6 linked regions of the Homo sapiens genome follow. The protein of the gene in region 6 purifies or fractionates together with the protein of the main gene of each other region. This does not show direct contact. Each region holds a gene or a part of one and is shown on either strand. Other genes may lie near its edges.

Region 1 (4,290 bases), on a different chromosome or scaffold from region 6:
GGCAACAAAGTGAGACCGTGTATCTATTATACAAAAATTTTTAAAAATTAGCTAGGCATGGTGGCGCCCACCTGTGGTCCTAGCTACATGGGACACTGAGGTGGGAGGATCAATTTGAGCCCAAGAATTTGAGGCTGCAGTGAGCTATGATTGCGCCACCACACTCCAGCCTGGGCAACAGAGCGTGACTCTGTCTCTCCAAAAGAAAAAAGTAAAGAAATGGTCAGAGAAATGACAGCTGGTCTGGGTGAGTGGCAGGAAAACCAGAGGGCTTTAGACGTGGTCAGAGATGGTAAAAGCTGGCCATGGGGAGACGGGGCAGCCAGGGTGGCAACAATGATCAGAAGTGGTCAGATATGACCAGAGAAGAGAAGGGGTTACAGATGGTCAGGAAGATGAGCAGTGGACAAAGAGAAGGGAGGGCATGGGTTGGGCTCAGATCTGGGGGAGATGACCATGTCAGAGACACGTGGTCAGAAACGGCCCAAAGCCAGCAAGGTGGTCAGAGAGGAGGAAAAGGACAGACATGGCAGAGTCAGTGGGAGCCCAGGACAGCTGCTCAGGAGGATGGTGCGGGGAGAGGTCATCGGAGAGAGGAAAGGCAGCAGAGATGTTCGAGATGATCAGAGGGCATCAGCAAGTGAGAGAGGAGAGGTGGCCAGAGATTATCAGAGGGCATCAGTGAGTGAGAGAGAGAGAAGAGGTGGCCAGAGATGATCAGAGGGCATCAGCGAGCGAGAGAAAAGAGGTGGGCAGAGATGATCAAGAGGGCATCAGTGAGTGAGAAAGAGAGAAGAGGTGGCCAGAGATGATCAAGAGGGCATCAATGAGTGAGAGAGAGAGAAGAGGTGGCCAGAGATGATCAGAGGGCATCAGTGAGTGAGAGAGAGAGGAGAGGTGGCCAGAGATGGTCAGACAGTTGCAGACTGGGAGTTAGGGTCAGGGGTGGGAGGAGGGCAAGAGCAGTGGGAGAGATGGCCAGAGAAAGGGAAAGGTGGCCAGAGGAAGCTAGAGAGGAGAGATGGACAGAGGCTGCTGGAGAGAAGAGTGGTGGACAGCAATGTCAAAGATGGATGGGGACGGTCACAGACCTAGGCTTAGATTCAGGGGTGGAGAAGGAGCAAGAGAGCTGGTGAATGATGATTAGAGAGAGGCACAGTGGACACAGATGTCAGCGATGGTCACTGAGAAGCAGCAGGCAGAGGCGACTGGAGAGAGGACCTGTGGACAGGGGTGTCACAAAGATGATCAGAGAGAGAAAAAGGGAACAGAGATGGCCATTGAGAGGACAGGTGGAGAAAGGAGCCCAGAGAGAGGAGTGGTGGACAAGAGAGGTGGCGGAGACGGTCGGACCGGATAGACAGCGAAAGGCTGTAAGGGTTGCAGGGGTCAGAGACCTGGAGGTCCCATCAACTGAGGCAGGGAAGGTCAGAGAGGGGCAAGGATGGCCAGTGTCCAGAGAGTGTTTGGAGCAGAGCAGGAGCTGAAGGCAGACCCATGGGGGAATGTCTTTTTTTCTGGAGAAACCCCAAGAGTGTCAAAGGGTACCTGGTACCGTAACCCGCAGCCACAATGCTCCTCCCAGCCCGTCCCCACCTTGAGGTTTCAGCAGCCTTACCTGAGCTAGAAGCAGCCCCAGGGAGCAGAGTCCTAGCTCCAGGGGAGTCAGAGGTCAGGGCTCTGGAGGGAGCATCTGGTCATGCTTTTCCTGTCCCCAAGGCTTCTGTAGAGGGACTGTGTCCTGACTCGGCTCAAATCTGTGGCAACGGAGTCTCCAGACCTTAATACTCGGGGTTCCAGACCCCTAAATATTGGGCCTCTAGGGTCCAGTTTTACGGGTCCAGTTTGGGTTGTTCAGGGTCAGGGTCTCCCAGGTCCAGTCTTGGGATGCTAAGCAGCCAAACGGTGGGGTTTAGAGTCTGAGATCCGATCCCGGGGTTCTGCATTCAGATATTGGGGTGCTGAGTCAAGATTGGGAGGTCTCAAGCCCCAGATTTAAGCACTCAGGTCTGCAGCAAGGACTTCAGGCCCAAACTCGGGTTCAGGCCCCTTGGAATCCCACAGTCCAGATCTTGGAATTTGAGGCCTGAATCCCAGGGTTCAGGTCCCCAAGAGTGGGTTCCAGGGTACAGTACTGGAAATCCAGTCCCAGATTTCAAGGTCCCAGGCCCAGAATTCAGAGTTCAGCTCCAGGCTTGAGGTTTTAGATGTCAAATCTTGGGGTTCTGCTCCAAATATTGGGGTCTGTGTTCCAAATTGTGGGGTTCCGGCTCCAAATATTGAGGTCCCAGTGACCGATGTTGAGATTCCAGCCCCATATACTGGGGTTCAGGCTCCAGATCTTGGGGTTCCACGGCCGGATCTCGGGGTGCTGGTCCCAGATCAGGGTTCCAGGCTCGGGTTTCCGGAATTCCCGATTCAATCTGGGGGTGCAGGCCCCCGAGGTGGAGGTTAGGGCGCGGGGTCCGGGGCGGCGGCGTCCCGGCTGGCTTCCTGGGCTGCGGCGGAGGCTGACTGGGAGGGAGGGGACCGGCTGCGGTGGGGAGGGGGGCGACCGGGCAGCCCCAGGGCCGGGTGGGGCGAGGCCTGGGAGCGGAGGGACGGTCAGACAGACTGGGACACGCGGGATGGGGGCACCGCAGCGCAGGCGGGGGCGCAGGGGGGAGGGGCCGCGCTCAGAGACCCCTCCCCCGCCGGGGCCGAGGCGGGGGCCGGGCGGGGGCCGGGCTGGGCGGGCCGGGTCCAGGCGCTCCCGCGGCCTCCTCGCCGGCAACCCAGGGCAGCGCGCGCACCGGCGCTTAAAGGCGCAGGCTCCGCGCGCACCCGCGCTTAAAGGCGTAGGCACCCGCCCCTTCTCTCAAAGACGCGCCCCGGCCCCACCTCCCATGGAGTCGCACTGGCGCTGCTGGGAAAGAGAATCCCTGGATACAGAGAGACTGAGACAGAGAGACAGAGAAGAACGGAGATACAGAAAGGCAGACAAAAAGATGGGCAGGCTTAGATTGATGGATAGAGAGGAGAAAATGGAAAGAGGCAGAGAGACAGATTGAAACACACACATATTCGAGACATGGAAATGCACAGAGACAGCGAGACACAGAGAGTGATGGAGAGACAAGAGATAAGGACAAGTCAGAGAAAGACAGAAACAGAGATAGAGACGTGCGTGCGCGCGCACACACAGACACACACATACACACTCACACGCTCTAAGACGCAGCACCTGGGCTGTGAGAATGGTATGTGTGTATGTGCATTCAGTAACTATTCCTAGCCTTGAGTGTAGCGCTTCATTCCAGAGCCACTGGCCCCCCAAACCTGTCTCTTTCTGCCCCCCTTATCTCAGCACCACCTCCCTGGAATGTCCTTTCCACGGTTGGAGTTTCCTTACCTGGCCATGCCCAGCAATAGGCTTGATCTTTCAGGCCAGAGGGGCTCCTTCCCAAGGCTCCTTTCTCTGCCTGCAAGAGGGAAAACTTGTGCCATCTGGGATTAGGGAAAGACCTCAAGACACACTGACAGCCGGGGGCGGTGGCTCACGCCTGTAATCCCGGCTCGTTGGGAGGCCAAGGCGGGCGGATCTTTTGAGATCAGGCGTTGGAGACCAGCCTGGCCAACATGGAGAAACCCCGTCTCTACTAAAAATACAAAAATTAGCCGGGTGTGGTGGCGGACGCCCGTAATCCCAGCTACTCGGGAGGCTGAGGCAAGAGAATTGCTTGAACCCGGGAGGTGGAGATTGTAGTGATCTGAGATCCAGCCATTGCACTCCAGCCTGGGTGACAGAGTGAGACTCTGTCTTTAAAAGAAAGAAAGAAAGAAAGAAAAGCAGAGAGGGATGCCTTGCCTTGCAGGAGCCAGGCCAGGTGTCCTTGCAGTGCAGCCCACCAGGATCACCCGGGGGCACCATAGATCTCCAGGTCCCAACCTCAGAGTTTCTGGTTCAGTGGGTCTGAGGTGGGACCCAAACATTTGCATTTTTAACGAGTACCCAGGTGATGCTAATGTGACTTTTCAAAGACCATACTTTTTTTTTTGAGACAGGGTCTTGCTTTGTCACCCAGTACATTGGTGCAATCATAATTGACTGCAACCTCAAATTCCTGGGCTCAAGCAATCCTCCCACCTCAGGCTCCAGAGTAACTGAGACTACAGGCATGCATCGCCATATCCAGCTAATTTTTAAAATTTCTTGTAGAGACAGGGTCTCAATATGCTGCCCAGGCTGGTCTTGAACTCTTGGCCTCAGGCAATCCTCCCTCCCAGGCCTCCCAAAGTGTTGTGATTACA
Region 2 (3,982 bases), on a different chromosome or scaffold from region 6:
TCTATTCTTACCCCAGTCTACATTTCTTCATAACATCGGTCACCATCTGATCTACATTTACTTATGTATCATCTCTTTACCCCCACTGGAATGTAAGTTCCACGTCCCTAGAGTCTATATTTTGTTTACTGCCTTATCCTTATACCTAAACAAGTGCCTGGCATGACACCACTCAGTAAAACTTGAATAAATGAATAACAAATCTAGGCTCAAAGCTCTTACAGGTGAAAGGGGCTAACCTGGCAGTCACAAAGGAAAAATATCACTGTGACAACCGTCTGAGGAGCACCTTCTCCCCTTAAAATAACTCACTCAAAACAGTGGAGCTGCAAAGGTGACCAGAGAAAATCCATTAACACCTTAGTGCCCATGACACCAGGTGAGTTGATCGGGCTACTTGCGAGAGGGACATGTGAGTGAGCGTGGAGAGCTCTGAGTAGGCTGAAGAGCTGGATGTGGGGGATCTGGGCTGCTGGGAACCCCGAATGTTGGAATCGCCCTGACAACCTTATGAGGGTGGTCAGATATGGGTCCTGAGGAAACTGATTCCACGGCAACTGCCCGCCAACCCAGCACACCCCACAGTGAAGAGGGGCTTCTGATCCATGAGTAGGGCCCCTCAAATGATGTTCCCCTTTAGATGGTCATGGTCATCAGCAGGGGTGGGTGCATCGATCCTGTGGGGTCTTGGTGGTCGCAGACCAAGCGTCCCTCTTCTCACATCTAATTCACAACGTCTCATCGCTCCGCGGGAGCCCAGGAACTGCCCTACAACAGCCGAAATCCGGGTCGTCTATTCCAACGGACTCCTCTTCCGTTGGATACGGGGGCCGTGAGAGGCCAAACAACCTCCGCGAGGCTACCCCCGCAGCGACCGCTCGGCGGGCGCTCCATTCCTTTACCGGACTGTACACCTCGCCTCCTGGGGCCTGAGGCGGGAACCCGGGTCGCGCTGCTCCGAGGCCTCGGCGGACCGCGAAAGGATGGCTCACCACCCGGCCAGGGCCAGCCCCTGCAACAAGCTCAGCCCCGCCCGCTCCCGCGCCCAGGAGCGGCCGGCGGGGCGGGGTGGCTGGGCCGGCCTCGGGGGCGGGGGCTCGGGGGCGGGGGCTCAGGGGCGGGGCCACGTGGCTCCTCCTTGCGGGCGGAGGCAGGCGGTGCCGCGGCGCCGGGACCCGACTCATCCGGTGCTTGCGTGTGGTGGTGAGCGCAGCGCCGAGGATGAGGAGGTGCAACAGCGGCTCCGGGCCGCCGCCGTCGCTGCTGCTGCTGCTGCTGTGGCTGCTCGCGGTTCCCGGCGCTAACGCGGCCCCGCGGTCGGCGCTCTATTCGCCTTCCGACCCGCTGACGCTGCTGCAGGCGGACACGGTGCGCGGCGCGGTGCTGGGCTCCCGCAGCGCCTGGGCCGTGGAGTTCTTCGCCTCCTGGTGCGGCCACTGCATCGCCTTCGCCCCGACGTGGAAGGCGCTGGCCGAAGACGTCAAAGGTGAGAAGCGGGGGCGGCCCGCTCCCCCGTGCCCCGCCGCCCGGACCCCTCCACCTGCCCGGTGGGCAGCCTCCTACTCCGGGAGCGCGTCCCTCTTCCAGTCACCTCCGCCCACCTCTTCCTCTCCGCGCATCCCACGCCCACCACCTTCATGTTTCTCAGCTCCATTTTTGCCTCCCGCTCCCTTGCCTTTTCCTCTTGGCCCTCATCCCGAGCTTCTTTCCCTCTCCGCGGCCTGGGCCCCCAGACCTGCCCTGCTCGCCCGGTTCGTCCCCCGCCAGGTTACTGCCTCCTTCCCTGCGAGAGGTCTCCTTTGTTCCTTCCTCCGCATGGTCCGCTGACACCTTACCGTTTCCTGGGCCAGCCTTGTGGCAGTCCTCTTCCTCTCGTCCAGGGACCCATGTCATCTTCCTGCCAGGTTCCCTAGCTGCTGTGGGTCAGTGCTGGGGAGAAAAGGGAACGGACATCCATTTTGCCTCCCTGCCACCTTTCTCCACTCCCTCGACTGGTTGACCAGGTGGTACATAGACTTCCTTTCTCATTTTTGTCTTTGATGTGGGTATGTCCACCTGGCAGTTTTCCTATCTCTGTTCCGGGCCTCTCCTGACCTGCCGCCTCCAGCTCCTTAGCTTCTGGGCCACATCCTTCTCTCTCTTCCCCCGCTCAGACCCTTATATTTTAAACCCATGCACCCAGAGGCCTTTGGTGCGTGTTTGGCTCTTGCTCCATGTTCCCAATCCCTGGTTGGGGCACCAAAACTATATTTCCTGAATTCCAAGACACCATCAACTGTGAGACACACTGTTCATTTTATGACAGCCCAAGGGGTAGAAGGATAGGAAAAAACCACTACATGTATAAAGATTTGAAGGTGAACTCTATTACAGAAATGCTAAAATTTTGAAACACTTAAGACTTAGAGTCGAGGAAATATGGTAATAATAGTAATTAATATTTACGGAGCACCTATCATTTCAGGCACCTTACTAAGTACTCGGCATACATTGTCTCATAGTTTCCTTTCCACAATTTAAAGATTCCTGTGGTGTCACACATCCACCTAATCCAGGTAGTGGGTATTTGGCGGGCAGGAGTGGTATAGTGATAGTGATTTGTTCCTGACTTGCTGCCTCTGAATGGAGTTACTTCCTGACTCTGGTGCTAGGTCGCTAGCACGGCCTCCTACCCTGAAATGGTCATTGAATGAGAACTGTGGGCATCTTTGGAAATAGGCCTTTTTCTAGAGAAAGGGGAACTGGAACCATTGTTCCACTGTTGGTATTTCTTGATAAATTCAACTCTTTGTGGTAGAACAGTGCCTTTGTAGATGTTAGTTTTCAGACTCACCCTCCTCTTTTCCTGAGCAGCTTGCAGATTGGTTTCTGAAGAGGCGAGATGGAACCATGTGTACATCTTTTAGCCATATGGTCCTGGAAAATTATTTTTAAATGAAACTTATAAGCTGTTTTGACCTCCAGTTTACACTTGCCTACATGCCTCACTGGTCCCATTAGCTGAACGTGCCTTTCTGAGCAGTGCTTCACACCATTTCAACACATTTGGTCAGGGGAGGAGTGATGTCAACACATCTGGTCAGGGGAGGAGGGAGGAAGAACATGGATCATGGAACTGGAACACCTAAGATAAGGTAATCTCAGGGGACATTGTGGGCATGAACATCATAAAAATTCCCAGATCGCTTTCCACTTTGAGGTTATAAGAGGTGTTCAGTGGCTGCAGATGGACTTATTCTAGAATTTCTTCCTTCTTGAGAGTGCTGGGGGGAAAGATTAGCTTCCAGCTGACTCACATGTTTGGCCTCTTGCAATGCAGAGTTTTTAGTTTTCCTATGAGTTGCATGTCTAGATACTGACCCATTCTGCTCCTGGATGAGGGTTACCACTTCCAAACAGGATTCCCCAGTGCATGGAGCCTTTCTCTAAAATAAGAAAGCGAAATCAGAATTTAACCTCTGAAAAGGAAATGGAAGGATCAAAGTCTGTGGGGGTGAGCCAGGGTAAATGGGAGGTGGGAGATTTCAGTGGAAACTGGAGGTCTCCTGTGAGCCATTGGTGTGAGTCAGTCCTTGAGCCAGATCGTGTTGGGAGGGCACTGGCAGAATCTGCTGTCAGCCTGCAATGAAGAATGTCCTCCACTCTAACCCAAAGGGGTGTTCCCTGGTGAGGCCCTGCTGAGAAGCTAGGGTTGGTCTCGCTTCATCTCTGTGTCCTGAGGTTTCTTGAGAAAGGTTGGTTGTGGGCCCGCAGAGGGCTGTGCTCATCCCACCCTGGGCTGTGTGAGTACTGCCCATGCTCTCTGCTGAGGACACCTGTATCTTGAGGCAGGAACAGAGACAGAGTGAAGGTCACAGGGAGAGAGAAGAATTTTGCAGCCATATTTGGCTGGCTTCAGGCATTTAATCTGACTGAATAGGGTTCATTTCTTCAGTGACTAGGGCAGTAGATTCTCTAGGCACCTGCTGCCCCGGGGCAGAGC
Region 3 (3,500 bases), on a different chromosome or scaffold from region 6:
GCACTTACCACCAATCAGTGGGTTGATTACAGTGCTTGTATTCTTGGTTCCTAGGAAGATAACGTTACTGCCGACTCACTGATGGGTTTTCCAAAAGTTTGTCACACTCTATTCTAGAGAAGGGAGGAGAAGAGAGGGGGAGGGATCCTTACTGAAGGGCTATGTGTCATGCACTGAGTTAGGCATTGTACATATATCATTATTTATACCAGTTTTCCAGATGAGGAATCCGAGACTCAGAGAAGTAATTTGCCCAAAGTCATACCTGGGCTGGTGAGGGTGGAACAGTGTTTGGTGTTAGACTCCAGAGCTCATAATCCTCTCTTTTATACCTCACCTGGCCCCTGCCTTGGCATTCCCTGGCAGCACCCTGATACTCCAGCTAGGCTAGTATGAGGTGGAAAACACACTCAGCTTTATTACTAATATGTCCCAACCACTGAACAAATAAAATATCCCTGAGCTGCCGACAGTGCCTACACAGGAAAGCCGACAACTTTACAGCCATCCTCCCCACAGGGCATCTCAGGGTGCCCTCAGCTCAACTGAGGAGAGAGGCCACATGTGAATTAACCTGAGTAACTTCTGGATGGTCCATACCCAATGGCCAGGATTTGGCAGTGAGGGAGTCAGTGAAGTTTTTTCTGGTCTGGGTAGGGGCCGTAGCACCCTGAACCAAGTCACCAAGGACCTAGGCCCTTTCTATCTTTTACATCTTGGCTTTCATTCACTGGCTTATCTTCCCACTGTAACAAGATGGTAGCCACAGCTCCAAGCAAAACATCTTCACACAACGACACAGGGTTATTAAAATACAGAAAGGAAGGAAGCTATCTAGCCAGTAAGGGGTGGAGGGGTTTTTCCTCCTGCCATGCTCTTTTTTTTTTTTTTTTTTTTTTTTGAGTGGCAGCTCTTACTCTGTCACCCAGGCTGGAGTACAGTGGTGTAATCTTGGCTCACTGCAATTTCCTCCTCCCAGGCTCAAGTGATCCTCCCACCTCAGCCTCCCAAGCATCTGGGCCCACAGGTGCGTACCACCACATCCAATCTTTCACCCAGGCTGGAGTGCAATGTCATGGCTCACTGCAGCCTCAACTTCCCAGGGTTAAGCAATCCTCCCACCTCAGCCTCCCAAGTAGCTGGGACTACAGGTGCACACCACCACTCAATCTCATTAAAAGAAATTTTTTTTTTGCAAAGATTGGGGATGGGCGGGGAGTGGGGGCTCTCACTGTGTTGCCCAGGTTAGTCTCGTACTCCTGAGCTCAAGCTATCTGCCTGCCTCGGCCTCTCAAAGTGCTGGGATTATGGATGTGAATCACTGCACCCAGCCTTAATAAATTATAACACCTTTCCCAGAACCCCCTTTACCAGCCGACGTCCCTTTATGTCTCATTAGCTAAAACTGGGTTATACAGCCTGCCCTAGCCCAATCATTGGTGAAAGGGAATGGGAGCATTGTGATTGGCTTAGACCAGCGGTTCTCAGCCCTGGCTGAACATTACATTTACATGAGGAGCTTTTTTATTTATTTTTTTAATGCCAATGCCTGAGCTCCACCCCCAGAGATTCTGATTTAAGTAGTCTGGAGTGGAGTCCCCAGACTCAGGCACTGGGATGTTTGAAAAGCTCCCCAGATGATCCTACTGTATAGCCAAAGCTGAGAACCTCTGGCTCAGACCAGTCATGGTTCATCCCCTGGGCCAGATGGGACCAGAAGGCTGCCACCGGAACAAGATCAGGATGGGGAATAAAGGGCTGTTGATGAGCACTGAACTGCTTGCCACAGTAATTTATGTGAAAGAACTTGGAGCTATGAAGTGCCAAGCAGATGTAGAGTGTTATTATGGAAAGGGGAAAATGTCCTCAATTATACATGGGTCCATTTATCACCCTCTCACATGCCTTCACATGCTTTGTTGTCTGTAGCTCATTATCTAATTATCTAATAATCCATCATTGTACACTATCCACCACTGTTCTGGACAGACTGATGTGCTATCCTGTCCTTTTCAGCATGTCTCCCTTTAATGTCTGCCCTTGGTAGGTCCCAAAGTTTCATCCCGCTAGGCATTTAAGGCACCTTGATCTTTGCTCTTGACATGACATATGCATCCTTTGAAAGAAATTAGGAAAGAAGGCAAACACCCTGTAATTTGAACCCTAACAATCAGGAAGCTTTCTTTCTAAAGAAATCATGTAAACAGGAAAAGAAATGATCAACCACCACCAAATCATTTTGAAAATCTATTTTAATCAGGAAACTGGGCCACAAACATTTTATATAGGCTTATGTATAAATATCACTGAGGCCGGGTGCAGTAGCTCACACCTATAATCCCAGCACTTTGGGAGGCTGAGGCAGGAAGATCGCTTGAGGTCAGGAGTTCAAGACCAGCTTAGGCAACATAGTGAGACAACCCCCACCATCTTTACAATTTTTTTTTAAACTAGCTGAGGGTAGTGGCGCGCATCTGTAGTCCCAGCTACTTGAGAGGGTGAGGTAGGAGGATCGCTTGAGCCCAAGAAGTCGAGGCTGCAATGAGCTGTGATCACGCCACTGCGCTCTAGTCTGGATGATAGAGAGAGACCCTGTCTCAAAAGATAAATAAATATCACTGAAAAGTGAAGCTGTTGCTTACACACAGACTGCTAAAGAATGGGCATTTTTTTTTTTTTTTTTTGAGATGGAGTCTTGCTCTGTTGCCAAGCTGGAGTGCAGTGGTGCGATCTCGGCTCACTGCAACCTCTGCCTCCCAGGTTCAAGCAATTCTCCTGCCTCAGCCTCCCCAGTAGCTGGGACTACAGGTGTGTGCCACCATGCCCAGCTAATTTTTTTGTATTTTTAGTAAAGACGGGGTTTCACCATGTTGGCCAGGATGGTCTTGATCTCTTGACCTCGTGATCCACCCGCCTCGGCCTCCCAAAGCGCTGGGATTACAGGCGTGAGCTACCGTGCCCAGCCCAGAATGGACATTTTTGAAACATTGCTCCTATATAGAATTTCTCATTCAACAAAATTATCTTCAGACTCCTAATAGCATATCAACCTGGGTGCTAGGTTTGAGCCAGAGAGCTGGAAGTTAGGATGGTGTGTGTGTGCGCATGTGTGTGTGCACATGGATAGGTACCTGAGTAGCAGGGCTGCAATGAGGTGTGAACAATTTTTAAAAATACATCCATGTCCAAATCATTATTGCTCCTTGTGAGGTTAATGCTACCTTTGATCAAGGCACTCGGAGCTCCCATTTGGGCCTGCCTTCCCTGGCAGGACCCCTCAGCTGATGGATACGGTGTTAAGGAAAAGTCAAGACTTGTCAAGTCTGATGAGTGAACAGGGAAGGAGGCTGGTCCTACAAAGCAAGGGGTGGACATAAAGTAGTAACAGTCATTCCTTGCTTTCTATATGAAGTCAGTTTTTGAATTACGGCATGGGAACCCAGGCATCAGGGCCTGCCTCTCCTGGTTACTACTTAATTGACCTTTGGCAAGTCCCTAAA
Region 4 (3,500 bases), on a different chromosome or scaffold from region 6:
CCAGGTCGGGGCAGCACCAGCTGGTCTTGGCACCTGCAGGGATTGGAGGGGCAGGCCCTTCACAGTTCTACTCACAGGTCCGCTCTGCGCGGGCGAACTGTCCTGCCACGATCCAGGAGAGCATGGTGACTGCTGCCACAGCCCCCACATGCAGGAATGGCGCTGTGCCCTGTTTGCAGGGAGAGGGAAGGGAGACCAGTAACGCCCAGCTCTGCCCAGACCCTGTGTCACCAGCCTCCTACTTCTACCTATGAGGCAGGCAACCCTGTCTCCATCTGCCAACTGGGGACACTGGGAGCCTCAGGACCCTGGTGTCCTCCCTAGTTCTGACCTGCTCTGTGACCCTGGGCGCCTCCCTGCCCTTCTTTGGGCCTTGGTCTGGAGAAAGGGAAGTGACAGAAAGGCTCTTGTTGTGAGGGTCCTGGGGGACCCTCCTCACTCACCTGCAGGGAGATCAGCAGCACCTCCCACTCGTCCTCCCACAGCTGGGCCACGGCCGACATGGCCACCACCGTGGAAGCCAGGATGACCACCAGCCCGATCTGGAGGGGGAAGAGTCACCGGACAGAGGCTCAGAGCGGGTGGGAGGGTTCCCAGTGTGTCTGAGAGAGGAGCCAGAGGGAGAGACAGAGAGGGCAGGAGAGGCCGATGGAGCAGGGCAGAGGGGAGGGAGGAAAGAGACAGGCATGGGCTGCCAGGAAACTAGAGGCCGGCAGATAGACACGGCAGGGAGAGACTGAGGCAGGAGGAGGCAGCAGGAGGCCGGCAGACCCAGCGAGGAAGGGACAGCGAGAAATGGAAGGGAGGATGGGGACAGGAGGAGGAGGGAACTGTGAGGAGGGAGGACATTCAGTAAGGGGGACCTCCCTGGGCCTGGCAGGTTAGTCACATCCAAGGTCCCGCCCAGCCTCCCTGCCACCTCAGCATGGCACAGCAGAGGAGGAAACCCACTTGTCCAGGCCATGCCCAGGCCTCAGGGGAAGGAGGCTGAGGAACTGGGTCTGCTGCAGGAGCCTGGAGTGCAGCCCAGCCTGGCACCCTGGGCTGGGCTCACAGTGGCACTTCAGGCGGGAGTGGGTGGTGAAACACATCGCCACCTGCCCCATCTCCACGGCCTGCCCTCTCCCGGACTCCCAGCATCTAGGTCCGCCGTGATGGGGGCCATCCTCCTTGCAGCCTCCAGAAGAAAGCAAAGCACAGCTCTCATGGAGGATGAGGTGGCACCTCTACGGGACAGAGATCTCTGGTGACAGGTAAGACCTGAAATCTTTAACCACGTGAAGCTCGGCAGAGGTTTTCGGCTCCTCGGCCCCCAGCCCCTCGCCCCTAGCCGTGGATCTCACTCCACCCACCCCCCTCCACACCCCCAGGCGTGCCTCCCCGAAGCCCAGGTTGTGGCTCTCCTCCAAAGCCTCCCGCAGATCCCAGTCTCTGGAAGGGTCAGTCAAAGCCGCCACCTCCGTCCCCCTAGTTTCTCCAGACTCGTCTCCCATCTCCCTCCAAAGGCCTGTCCTTCTCCCACAGCACTGCCGGCCGCCCTGCCTCCCTGGAGCCGTTCTAGCTGCTGGCAGGGCCTTCACCCCCTTTCTCCCGAGGCAACCTTTCCCAGAGGCAGCAGCGGCCAGGGCCCTCTGATGCCGAGCAGGGACAGTGGCATTTCTAGACGATGAGGGTGGGGCGGTGGCCAGCATCTCCGCTCCCTACCCAGGGACCTTCACTCGCCGGCGGGGAATGCTGAGTCTCGCCTGGGATGAAGTTTCCCTTTGGAGGCTTTTCATTCCAGCCCATCAGCCTGGAAACAAATGTTCCCCCAAGAGACCTGAGCGAGGCAGGTGAGGAGCTGGAAGGGCTGTGACATGGGGGCTCGGGGCGGGAAGAGGCATGGGCGTGCCTGGGCCTGTGGGGGCGCTTCGCGTGGTCCCCAGGTTGGTTCCGCGGAGGCACGAGCATCCTCATCTCACACACGGGAAGCGAGGTTCGGGGAGAGGAACAGCTGGCTGGGTCACGGAGCTTTGAAGGGGCAGAACCAGAAACGAACACCTTCTGCCCATCTCAGGGGGTAAGGGGGTGTGCGCTTTCTCGGACAGACAGCACGCTGGTGTCAGAGAGGCTGCGCAGTCTCTGGGAGGCCCAGCTGCGCCTCCGAACCCCTGAGAACCCCGCCCTCGGCACTCAGGCCCCTTCTCCCGGCTGCCCCCGGCGCGCAGCTCCCCCTTGTGGCCATCGTGGGAGGTGGCCCTGCACACAGTGAGTTAAGGATGGTTTCCAGGAGCATCTCATCACAATACCTATTAATGGAAACGACTTGCAATAAAACTGATTCCCCAAACCCTAATACAATTAAAAATGTTATTATCTCTGAGTTCCACAGTTGCTTTGGTGCTAATCAACACACTCAGCAGCATCACTGCATGTTCAGTGTCTGTGGGACTTCCCTACCTTGCATCATTAAGTTATAGCAATAGCACTGACACCCAAAAACGCAACCACCATCGCTCCTGAAATCTGACTGAGAAGGATGAATCCCACCCTAGAGGCCCAGAGACAGATCACCGTCCTCCTCTGAGAAAGTGGCCTTGGGTTCTCTGTCTTCATGGGACTGTGGCTTGTGATAGCCATGGTGGGTACAGGGGATACAACAGAGTCTTTCATTCATTCGATGAGTCTGGCCTAGGTGCCGGGACCCGAGAGGAGGTGGAACCCCGCCTTGCAGAGGTGCAACAGCTGGCCTCTTAGGGGTATCTGGCCTCTGGGTTTTGCAGTCCAAATGGCAGACAGCTGGCCCAGGGTTAAGAGCCTCACTTGAATCACGGTCTTCAGTCGAATCCTGGCTCTGCTACCTACTGGGGATCTTTCCACATCCTCTCCAGGGACCTTTCCAGAGCTGTGAAATAGGGATAGTGAGTACCTACCTGGAAGGGGGTTGGGGAAGATCAGTGAGGAAATGCAAGTGAAATGCTTAGTACAACGGCTGGCCAGAAGAAAATGCTTACTAAATCTCAGTGATATCATTTTAAAAAGTGAGCATGATATGGGAACAGGATTATTGTGAGGAGTGAAATGACTGTGAAATTCTGAGTGAAAGGTGCCTGACACATGTGGTCAGCACCCAATAAAGGATGGTTACTGCTGTTATGGTGAACGCAGTGCCTGGCACACACAGGAGGTGCTCAGTGAATGCGCCTTCCTTAAGCTGCTGCTGGAGGGACAGAGGCTGGACACCAGGAAAAACCATAAAGCTGGGGCCAGTGCATGGAGAGAAGTCTGAATTCACCAGGAGAGGTGATGAAGTAGACATAGCAGATGGCAGGTAGAGGCTGATGGAGCCTTGGTAGGAGGCAGAAGCCCCAGCCCCAGCCCAGCCAGTAACTTGCCTTGGGGCTGTGTGGTACCCAGTGCTCCTCTCTGGGGCTCAGGTTGGGTCGCTGACAGACGCCTCCTCTGTGCAGGTCCTGGGCTGGGGGCTGCTGCCACTGAGGCAGGGGAGTCAGGCGAGGACA
Region 5 (3,500 bases), on a different chromosome or scaffold from region 6:
TGATGAGAGTAGATTTTAAGTCTTCTTACCATACCGCAAAAAAGGTTAACAACCTGAGATGATGGATATGTTAATTGGCTTGACGCAGTAATCACTTAACTATGCAAATCAAAGCTTTTTTTTGTACACCTTAAACATATACAATAAAAAAAAGATCAAATGCCCCCCTGGGGAATGGAAAAGTGGCATAAATGAGAGAGCAGGCTGGCCTAGAAAACGAACTTGTAGGGGCTGTGATGAACTGGAACAAGTCCCATCTAAAGGGGCAATCATGAGTGAATCAGCTCCACCCCATAAATCCTGTCATCCAGAAAAAAAACAAACAAAGCCCAGGGTTGAGATATTTTTGCTTTGTTTTTTCAAAAGAAAGAAGCCAGGAATGCAGATTCAGAAGTGAAATTAGTTGGCATCTACTTCAAATTTGTTAAAAATAGCCTATGTGCTGCTCATTTGCAGGTTTGAGACTAGAAATCACATCAGTTTTAACAAGCTATATATTAAATTAGATACCATCAACTGACAAATGTTGAAGTGAAAGTTTTCTAAATATCAGAAAGATTAAAAGTTCATGTCATGCTAAAATCCTTAACTGTATGTTTTAATGATACCAGTACTAAAATGTAAAATCAAATAACATAAAAACTAGACTTAGCATGCATTTCTTAATGGTTTACATAACATTAAGCATTTTACAAATTATTGTATGACAGAAATAAAACAACTCATCGATTTCTAAAACACTGAAAGAGGTTTTGTAATGTTGATCCGGGAAACACACTTTGGAAAGCCTAATTCCCTCTTATTTGAGGTACATACCTGATTAGTATAATCATCATGATTTGCCATCAGAAGAAACCCACCATCATCCAGAATCACACAATCCATTACCTATCAAAATAAAGTGAACAGTTAACACATTTTTAGAAAGGTTAGGAGGCTGCATTGTCTTTACCCCATTATATACATGATTAGAGCAATAAAAATAGAAAATTTTAAATGCCTATCTTCTCTTGAACATATATGTTCATTAAATTCTGGTGAAATAAAGGCATGCATAGATTTATATCAAACCATCAGGCTTGATAATCCAACACCAACCATCCACTTGAGACTGTCAATTCAGTCTGAACAAATCAGAAGAGCAAATTAGAAATAATCTTTTTACCATTTCCGGGTCATCTAAATGATCCAGAAAACTGGATAGAGAAAATTATTTAATAATGAGTAACTGATTTAAACACATACTTAGGATTTTGACAAAAAGATATTTTAAAAAAATATCATTTTAGTTGTCCTGTTTCACAGACTTAAAACACATCAGTACTATAAGACTATTTATAATTATTTCATATTTTAGATTAAAAATATGTAGTTGGATAATTGGAGATTTAAAAGCAAAACGCAAAACAAAAAATGTCCATGGTTAATACTTACTTCACCCTGAAACACAGGATAAATTCCCACCTAGTTTAAATCATGTTTTAATGTATGAAAATCAATATAATAATTTGTATTGAATAAAAATCACAAATAAAAACATGGTTTTCAAAGTTGAGGATGTAATGCATTGCATTTTCCTAATGTGGAAGCAGTTTATTACTAAAATATTTGCTCTTAAAACAGCTACTGCATAGTCTATGTGAAATAGATAAGTTACAAAAATCATTAAAATTATTGGCTCATAATTTCACAGGAGTAGGAGTGATAAAGACGATATGAACCCCCTGCTTCCCTTGGAGATATACAGACACACAAAAGAGGACTGGAAGAAAATATTGTTTCATCATTGTTATTCAATTTTTAGAATTATTTATCTAGTATCATTCTTAGAGCATCTTCAACTTTTGAACAAAGTTCACATTTCCTTTTTCAATTTCTCAAACAGAAGTGAAAGTAATACAAGACACCTTAAAACTCAATCCATGTAACTATAACTTTATAATAAACTGTAATACTTCCAGGTTTAGTTAAAACATTTTTCCTGTAACTATATAATACAGTGTGAACAAATTTAGAGAAAGTGTGATAGGTGAGAGAAAACTGCATTGATAACCAATAGGGTTGCTTTGGTTAGAAACTTCCTATCCAGAAATAGAGCTAAAGATAAATATGTACAAAAGAATGTAACACAGTTGAGACCGAAGAGAACCATCATATTGACATGACCATTTTTTTACCTTCCAAGGATACATACATATTTTTAAAAATTCAAGCACTTTACATTCAAAATCAAAAGCATACAAATTCAAATGAATATATTATTTCACATTTCCATAGAATTTTTTAGCCTTTGATTAAAAAATTCCTGCATATTTTTTCATCACTATAGTCTTAGCAAGAGTAACACAAGGAAATATTGTACTCAAAAGTGATTTTAAATAGTTTTCTTACGTCACTGTTTCTTTTGCAGTCACAAACTGGACCAGCACACTGAAAGACAAAAATGCGATTATCACCTCACTTTTAAAAGTTGGATTTTAATTATATTATTACCATGTTATAATTAGAAATTCTGAAATAATTTATCCAGTAGAAAAATAAGATTAAACAGTCTAGTCTATAAGAAACAAAAGTTTTATCTTATTAGACAATGTCAATCAATATATAAACTAGCATTGCATGTTATAACCTTGAAATACTTCTATTACATATTGACTAATTTAAACAAAAAAAGCTTTGAAAAAATAGGAATTCAGAATTCTACTTCAGTGTAGTGGTATTGAGAATGTATTTGCCACTGTATAAGGACCTTATATTTTTTTCTATTGAATTTTGAAAACATTAAACATAGCATAAGAATTTTTTAAAAATATCTTACCGGATCTCTGATTGAGGTTTTGGTGAAATTCTCTATCCAGGAATTTACATCAATTTTAATTCCAACAACTGAAAAATTAATTTGAATTAATTCAAAGGTATAATTAGATGTAATACAACCTTTGCAATATGACAGTTATTTTGATAGCAAGTATCAGACTATAGTTTATTACAGAAGTTTTAGTTTTGTGTTCATTAAGAAATAATGCTAATAGCTCTTAAACTATTACATAAATTGTAACATATTCACAAAAGAGTGTATTCATTAGCCACAACCTGACCAATTAACTAATACAATAAGCTAAATAAAAAACAGTAGTGTCAGGAGAGCCTCATAAACTTGAGGTCATTCAAACGGTATATTTTAAGATGTTTCCCTAACCCCACCAGTGCTTGCAGTAGGTGCTTAATAAATCTTTGCTGAAAGAGTGAACAGATGAATGGATGAGTAGGTGGGTTAGTAGGAGAGTGGGTGAATAAATGAATGGCTGAGAGAATAACTGATTTAGTAAGTAATTGAGCAATTGAGTGAATGAAGGAATAGGTAAGTGAGTTAGTGAGTAAGTGATGGAGTGAATTCATGTAATAGATCCGCTGATGGGGTAAAGCTGTCCTCAGGAGCAGGAAGGCTCAAAATACTCTCCTTTAAAACTTCAAACACTGAATCATACAATCAAAAAAAC
Region 6 (4,300 bases):
TAGCTAGATAGGAGGAATAGGTTCTAGTGTAGTATGGCCATAGTTAACAATAATATATAGCTTCAAAGAGCTAGAAGGAGGATATTGAATGTTTCCAACATAAGCATCAATATTTGAGATTATAGATATGCTAATTACAGTGTTCTGATCACTATACATTGTATATTGAAACATCAATATGTACCCCATGAATATGTACAATTATTACATGAATATGTATCAAAACAAATTAAATTTAAAGACAAAACAAAGAACATAAAACATCTTCTTAATAATGTTTTATATTATGTGTTGAAATGATAACATCTTGTATATATTGGGTAAAGTAAAATATATCATTAAGATAAATTTTACCTCTTTGTACTTTTTTCTTAATGTGGCTACTAGAAAATTTTAAATTATAGCCAGGTGTAGTGATGTGCACCTGTAATCTCAGCTACTCAGGAGGCTGAGACGGGAGGATCGCCTGAACCTTGAAGTTCACGGCTGCAGTGAGCTGTGATCACGCCACTGCACTCCAGCCTGAGTAACAGAGCAAGACCCTGTCTCTTTAAAAAAAAAAAAAAGTAAAATTGGCCGGATGAGGTGGCTCACGCCTGTAATCCCAGCACTTTGGGAGGCTGAGGCGGCGGATCACCTGAGGTCAGGTGTTTGAGACCAGCCTGGCCAACATGGCGAAACCCCATCTCTACTAAAAATACAAAAATTAGCTGGGTGTAGTGGTGGGCGCCTGTAATCCCAGCTACTCGGGAGGCTGAGGCAGGAGAATCATTTGAACCGGGGAGGCGGAGGTTGCAGTGAGCCGAGATCTCATCACTGCACTCTAGCCTGGGAGACAGAGGGAGACTCCGTCTCAAAAAAAAAAAAAAGTAAAATTACAGGGTGGCTTGCATTTTATTTCTGTTGGAGAGCACCACTTTAGAAAGAGACAGTGAGCAGGGAGATCCTTATATCCTTATAGGAAATAGGAAGAGGAGCCATTGCAGAAATAAATTCTGTGATCCCAGACAAAGTGCTGGCACCATCTCCCGGGTTTGAGAACACACCGCAGAGATACAGAACAGCGCAGATTGCTGTTGAGGTCAGCTCCCAGCTCCCTGCCTCATTCCTCTCTGATTCCTCTTTTGTTCAGGCACAAAAACACTCCATCCTGAAACTTTTGTCATTATTGCCTTGGTAGAAGAAGACCACAGTTGTTACCTGGGTTTTGATTTGGGGACAACAGCATTTCAATGACTAGGAGATTTCAGGAGAAGCTAGTGGCCATGAAGATTCTCAAAATCAGCATGAACTTTATTTTTCACTGGTGTTCTTTCAAAGTTTGCCTTCGACTCAACGTGTGGTAGAAATTCACCCTGAAAGCATTTGCTCTTCTCTGGTTTTGTGTCTTTTCCTCCAGAACAGCGTTGTTTTTTGCATGTTTTGCACTTAGCCAGAGGAAGTCTGGCGCATCCGAGCCGGCCAGCCGAGCACATCTGGAAGTGGTTTCTGGGGCCGCCCCTCTCTGCCAGCGCAACTCCTGGGTTCCCAGCGGCTTCGCGCAGAGGTGGAAGAAACCCGAGACGTTCCGAAGTCAACGCAAGCAAAGGGGAGTGCGGGTCGGGGAGGAATATTCTTTTGGAAACGTAATATTGGCCTTGGGGCTCTCCAGCCCTTTGGGACTTCCAATGGGATCTTAGAAGCAGCCGAAGCAGCGTGAGGGCGGCAGCCCAGGGCCAGCCACGATTTGAACGCTCTGCCTTGCAGCTCTTCTGGACCGAGGAGCCCAAAGCCCTACCCTCACCATTCACCAGGTAAATAGAGAAATTTACGAGCAGTGTGCAGTCGTTCCGTTTTATCCTGGCCGGTCTGCAGCAGTTCTTTATTCTGCTACAGACCCAAGAAAGTAAATCAGAGGTGTCAGATTGCCCCACACAAACTTTGCCTTCAGAAACTTCCCAGTCCGAACTGGTAGCATTCCAGCGGAACCCTTTTCGGCCATTTCCAGCAAATCCAGTGTGCAATGTTTTTCACATCCTGGGCTGCTTTTCCAGACCTGGGTTTCTCCTCCTTCTCTCCACAAATATGATAATTTACTATTTGTATCAGATTTTAAACATAAAAATCAGCAGTTAGGATGTGGATGAATGCTATTATTTAATGAAGGTATGTCCTGAGCCACAAATTATTTAACTGAGCATGATTCATGTTTTCAGAATCTGCCTTAGGAAGCTGTTCTGAGGATCTCCATCCCCCCAGAAAGAACTGGCCGTTGTGGAAACCCAAGTGAGGCTTATTGTAAATACAGTAGTCGTGGTGTTTGGGTTGAAAATGCTTTTTAAACATTAAAAAAGATCTTATGTTTACTTTATAAGCAAGTGTCACACATTGGACAAGCCTGGTATATAATTTATGAAATAAGAAGGATAGTTAACATGAGAGTAAAAAAAAAAAAACCTGAGAGAGAGTGAGAGAAAGAAAACATGATGATATCTGAATGTCTGGATGTGCTTTGAAAAAAAAAATCAGTCCTCTCGTTGTTTGGCCCCTGTGCAGCCAAATATCCAAAGTGATATTGGTTGGTTTTTGTCTTTTCCTTTTCCTCCAAATGTTCTGGTGTGGCACTTCTGTGTAATATCCTTTCTATATTACATAATGGAATTCCAGTTCTCCCTTTAATGCACTTGGAAGTAGACTGTGCAATGCAGTGGTAAGAACATAGGCTCTGGGGTCAGGCTTACAGGACTGAATCTACATGCTGCCACTTACACACCTTCTAAGCTCGACTCCGGGTGAATTGTTTAACTGCATGCACCCTAGTTCCTCATCTGTAAAATGGAAATTACATGACCTAATGTCTATAGAGGACATAATACAGGACCTGCAAAGTAGTTAGGCCTCAGGAAAGGTTAGCTTCTCTGATGGTGCTGATGATGGCAGTGGTGACAAAAGTGATCATGCATCCTGTTTTTGGCAACACCTCTGCTTTTGACCATGGTTCCCTCTGACAGTCCAGTGGTCCAAGTGTTCCTCATACCCTAATATGTCATCTCTCCAGCACTTTGCTTTCTTCCTTTCTTCCTTCAGACACCTCTCTTTCTTTTATTTCCCATTCTGTCTTTCATTATTTCTTCTTTGTGCTTCCTCTTTCCTTGCTGAGAAAATGTGAGGTTCATTAAGGCACAGCCCTCATAGTTTTCATTTCTAGTTCCCGAGGAAAATGATTCTAAATCCTTTTTAATTTCAGCATTTTCCAAAGAAAGTTCTGAGAAAACATAGTCCCATGGGAAACTCTGTGAACTATATTACCCTCTTAGAGATCGCAAGGCATAATAGCATTTTAAAGGTCCTGAGAAGTCCTGTAGTAGAGAAATCCTCTTAAGGTTGTTTAACGCAATGATTCCCAAACAGTTGATCGCTGAACCACCTTATCACATAATGTAGGTTAACATTTCTAGGAGCACACTCTGCGGTGTGCTATTCTGGACACACTTGTTTTCATTTTGGTTCCTCTTTTGGACATCCTATTCTCCACCTTCCCTGGAGCTCATCCAAGGGGATGCCTTGTTTTTCCTTCTCAAGTTAAGGACATAAGATTATCATGTGTGTTGTACTGGTATATAGAAAATCTGGCCTAAATTGGAGATCAGAAGTCAGCAAACTTTTTCTGCAACGGGCCTGATAATAAGCCATATGGTTTCTGTTGCAACTGTTCAACTCTGCTGTTGCAGTATTAAAACAGCAGAGAAACAAAAAATAAGCATGGCTACGTTCTAACAAAACTTTATTTACAAAAACTAGTGTCAGGCAGGATTTGACCAGGGGTCATAGTTTGCTGACCCCTACTCTAAAGGCTTTTTGTGAAAGAATTTCTCATGCTAGCACAGGAGAAAGCAAGACAAATTCTCTATAAACTGAAGACTCTCTTGTCCTGCACCCCTAGTGCTATGGTCTGAAGGTTTGTGTCCCCCCAAAATTCATATGTTGAAACTCTAACCCCCAAGGTGATGCTACTAGAAAGTGGGGCCTTTTGGGAGGTGGTTGGGTCATGAGGGCAGCACCATCACCAATGGGATTAGTGCCCTTGTAAAATAGGCCTAAGAGGCTGGGCACAGCGGCTCACACCTGTAATCCCAGCACTTTGGGAGGCTGAGGCAGGTGGATCACTTGAGGTCGGGAGTTTGAGACCAGACTGACCAACATGGAGAAACCCCGTCCCTACTGAAAATACAAAAAATTAGCCAGGCGTGGTGGTGCATGCCTGTAATCCCAGCTATTTGGAAGGCTGAGATAGGAGAATCACTTGAACCCAGGAGGTGGA

Evidence for each region.
Region 1: the proteins of GLT8D2 (region 6) and LRFN3 purify together in Homo sapiens (affinity purification with mass spectrometry, with the first as the bait; one large-scale study listed by BioGRID). This does not show direct contact.
Region 2: the proteins of GLT8D2 (region 6) and QSOX1 purify together in Homo sapiens (affinity purification with mass spectrometry; 3 studies listed by BioGRID and IntAct, with this or other methods). This does not show direct contact.
Region 3: the proteins of GLT8D2 (region 6) and CHST7 purify together in Homo sapiens (affinity purification with mass spectrometry, with the first as the bait; one large-scale study listed by BioGRID). This does not show direct contact.
Region 4: the proteins of GLT8D2 (region 6) and GDPD5 purify together in Homo sapiens (co-immunoprecipitation; one large-scale study listed by IntAct). This does not show direct contact.
Region 5: the proteins of GLT8D2 (region 6) and CACNA2D1 purify together in Homo sapiens (affinity purification with mass spectrometry, with the first as the bait; one large-scale study listed by BioGRID). This does not show direct contact.

What each region holds. Positions count from the first base shown.
Region 1 is NC_000019.10:35,934,884-35,939,173, reverse strand, and holds the start of LRFN3 (leucine-rich repeat and fibronectin type-III domain-containing protein 3 precursor), read right to left. Parts: upstream 2,801-4,290; 5' UTR 1,619-2,800; intron 1-1,618. UniProt on the Homo sapiens protein: Cell adhesion molecule that mediates homophilic cell-cell adhesion in a Ca(2+)-independent manner. Promotes neurite outgrowth in hippocampal neurons.
Region 2 is NC_000001.11:180,153,687-180,157,668, forward strand, and holds the start of QSOX1 (sulfhydryl oxidase 1 isoform a precursor), read left to right. Parts: upstream 1-1,182; 5' UTR 1,183-1,221; coding exon 1,222-1,486; intron 1,487-3,982. UniProt on the Homo sapiens protein: Catalyzes the oxidation of sulfhydryl groups in peptide and protein thiols to disulfides with the reduction of oxygen to hydrogen peroxide. Plays a role in disulfide bond formation in a variety of extracellular proteins.
Region 3 is NC_000023.11:46,577,393-46,580,892, forward strand, and holds part of CHST7 (carbohydrate sulfotransferase 7), read left to right. Parts: intron 1-3,500.
Region 4 is NC_000011.10:75,449,442-75,452,941, forward strand, and holds part of GDPD5 (glycerophosphodiester phosphodiesterase domain-containing protein 5), read right to left. Parts: coding exon of another isoform or gene 3,375-3,500; intron 2,891-3,374; exon of another isoform or gene 1,892-2,890; intron 1,793-1,891; exon of another isoform or gene 952-1,792; intron 543-951; coding exon 444-542; intron 170-443; coding exon 76-169; intron 1-75. UniProt on the Homo sapiens protein: Glycerophosphodiester phosphodiesterase that promotes neurite formation and drives spinal motor neuron differentiation.
Region 5 is NC_000007.14:81,964,778-81,968,277, forward strand, and holds part of CACNA2D1 (voltage-dependent calcium channel subunit alpha-2/delta-1 isoform 1 preproprotein), read right to left. Parts: intron 2,887-3,500; coding exon 2,819-2,886; intron 2,431-2,818; coding exon 2,392-2,430; exon of another isoform or gene 2,388-2,391; intron 889-2,387; coding exon 817-888; intron 1-816. UniProt on the Homo sapiens protein: The alpha-2/delta subunit of voltage-dependent calcium channels regulates calcium current density and activation/inactivation kinetics of the calcium channel. Plays an important role in excitation-contraction coupling.
Region 6 is NC_000012.12:104,047,388-104,051,687, reverse strand, and holds the start of GLT8D2 (glycosyltransferase 8 domain-containing protein 2), read left to right. Parts: upstream 1-1,500; 5' UTR 1,501-1,793; intron 1,794-2,195; exon of another isoform or gene 2,196-2,265; intron 2,266-4,300.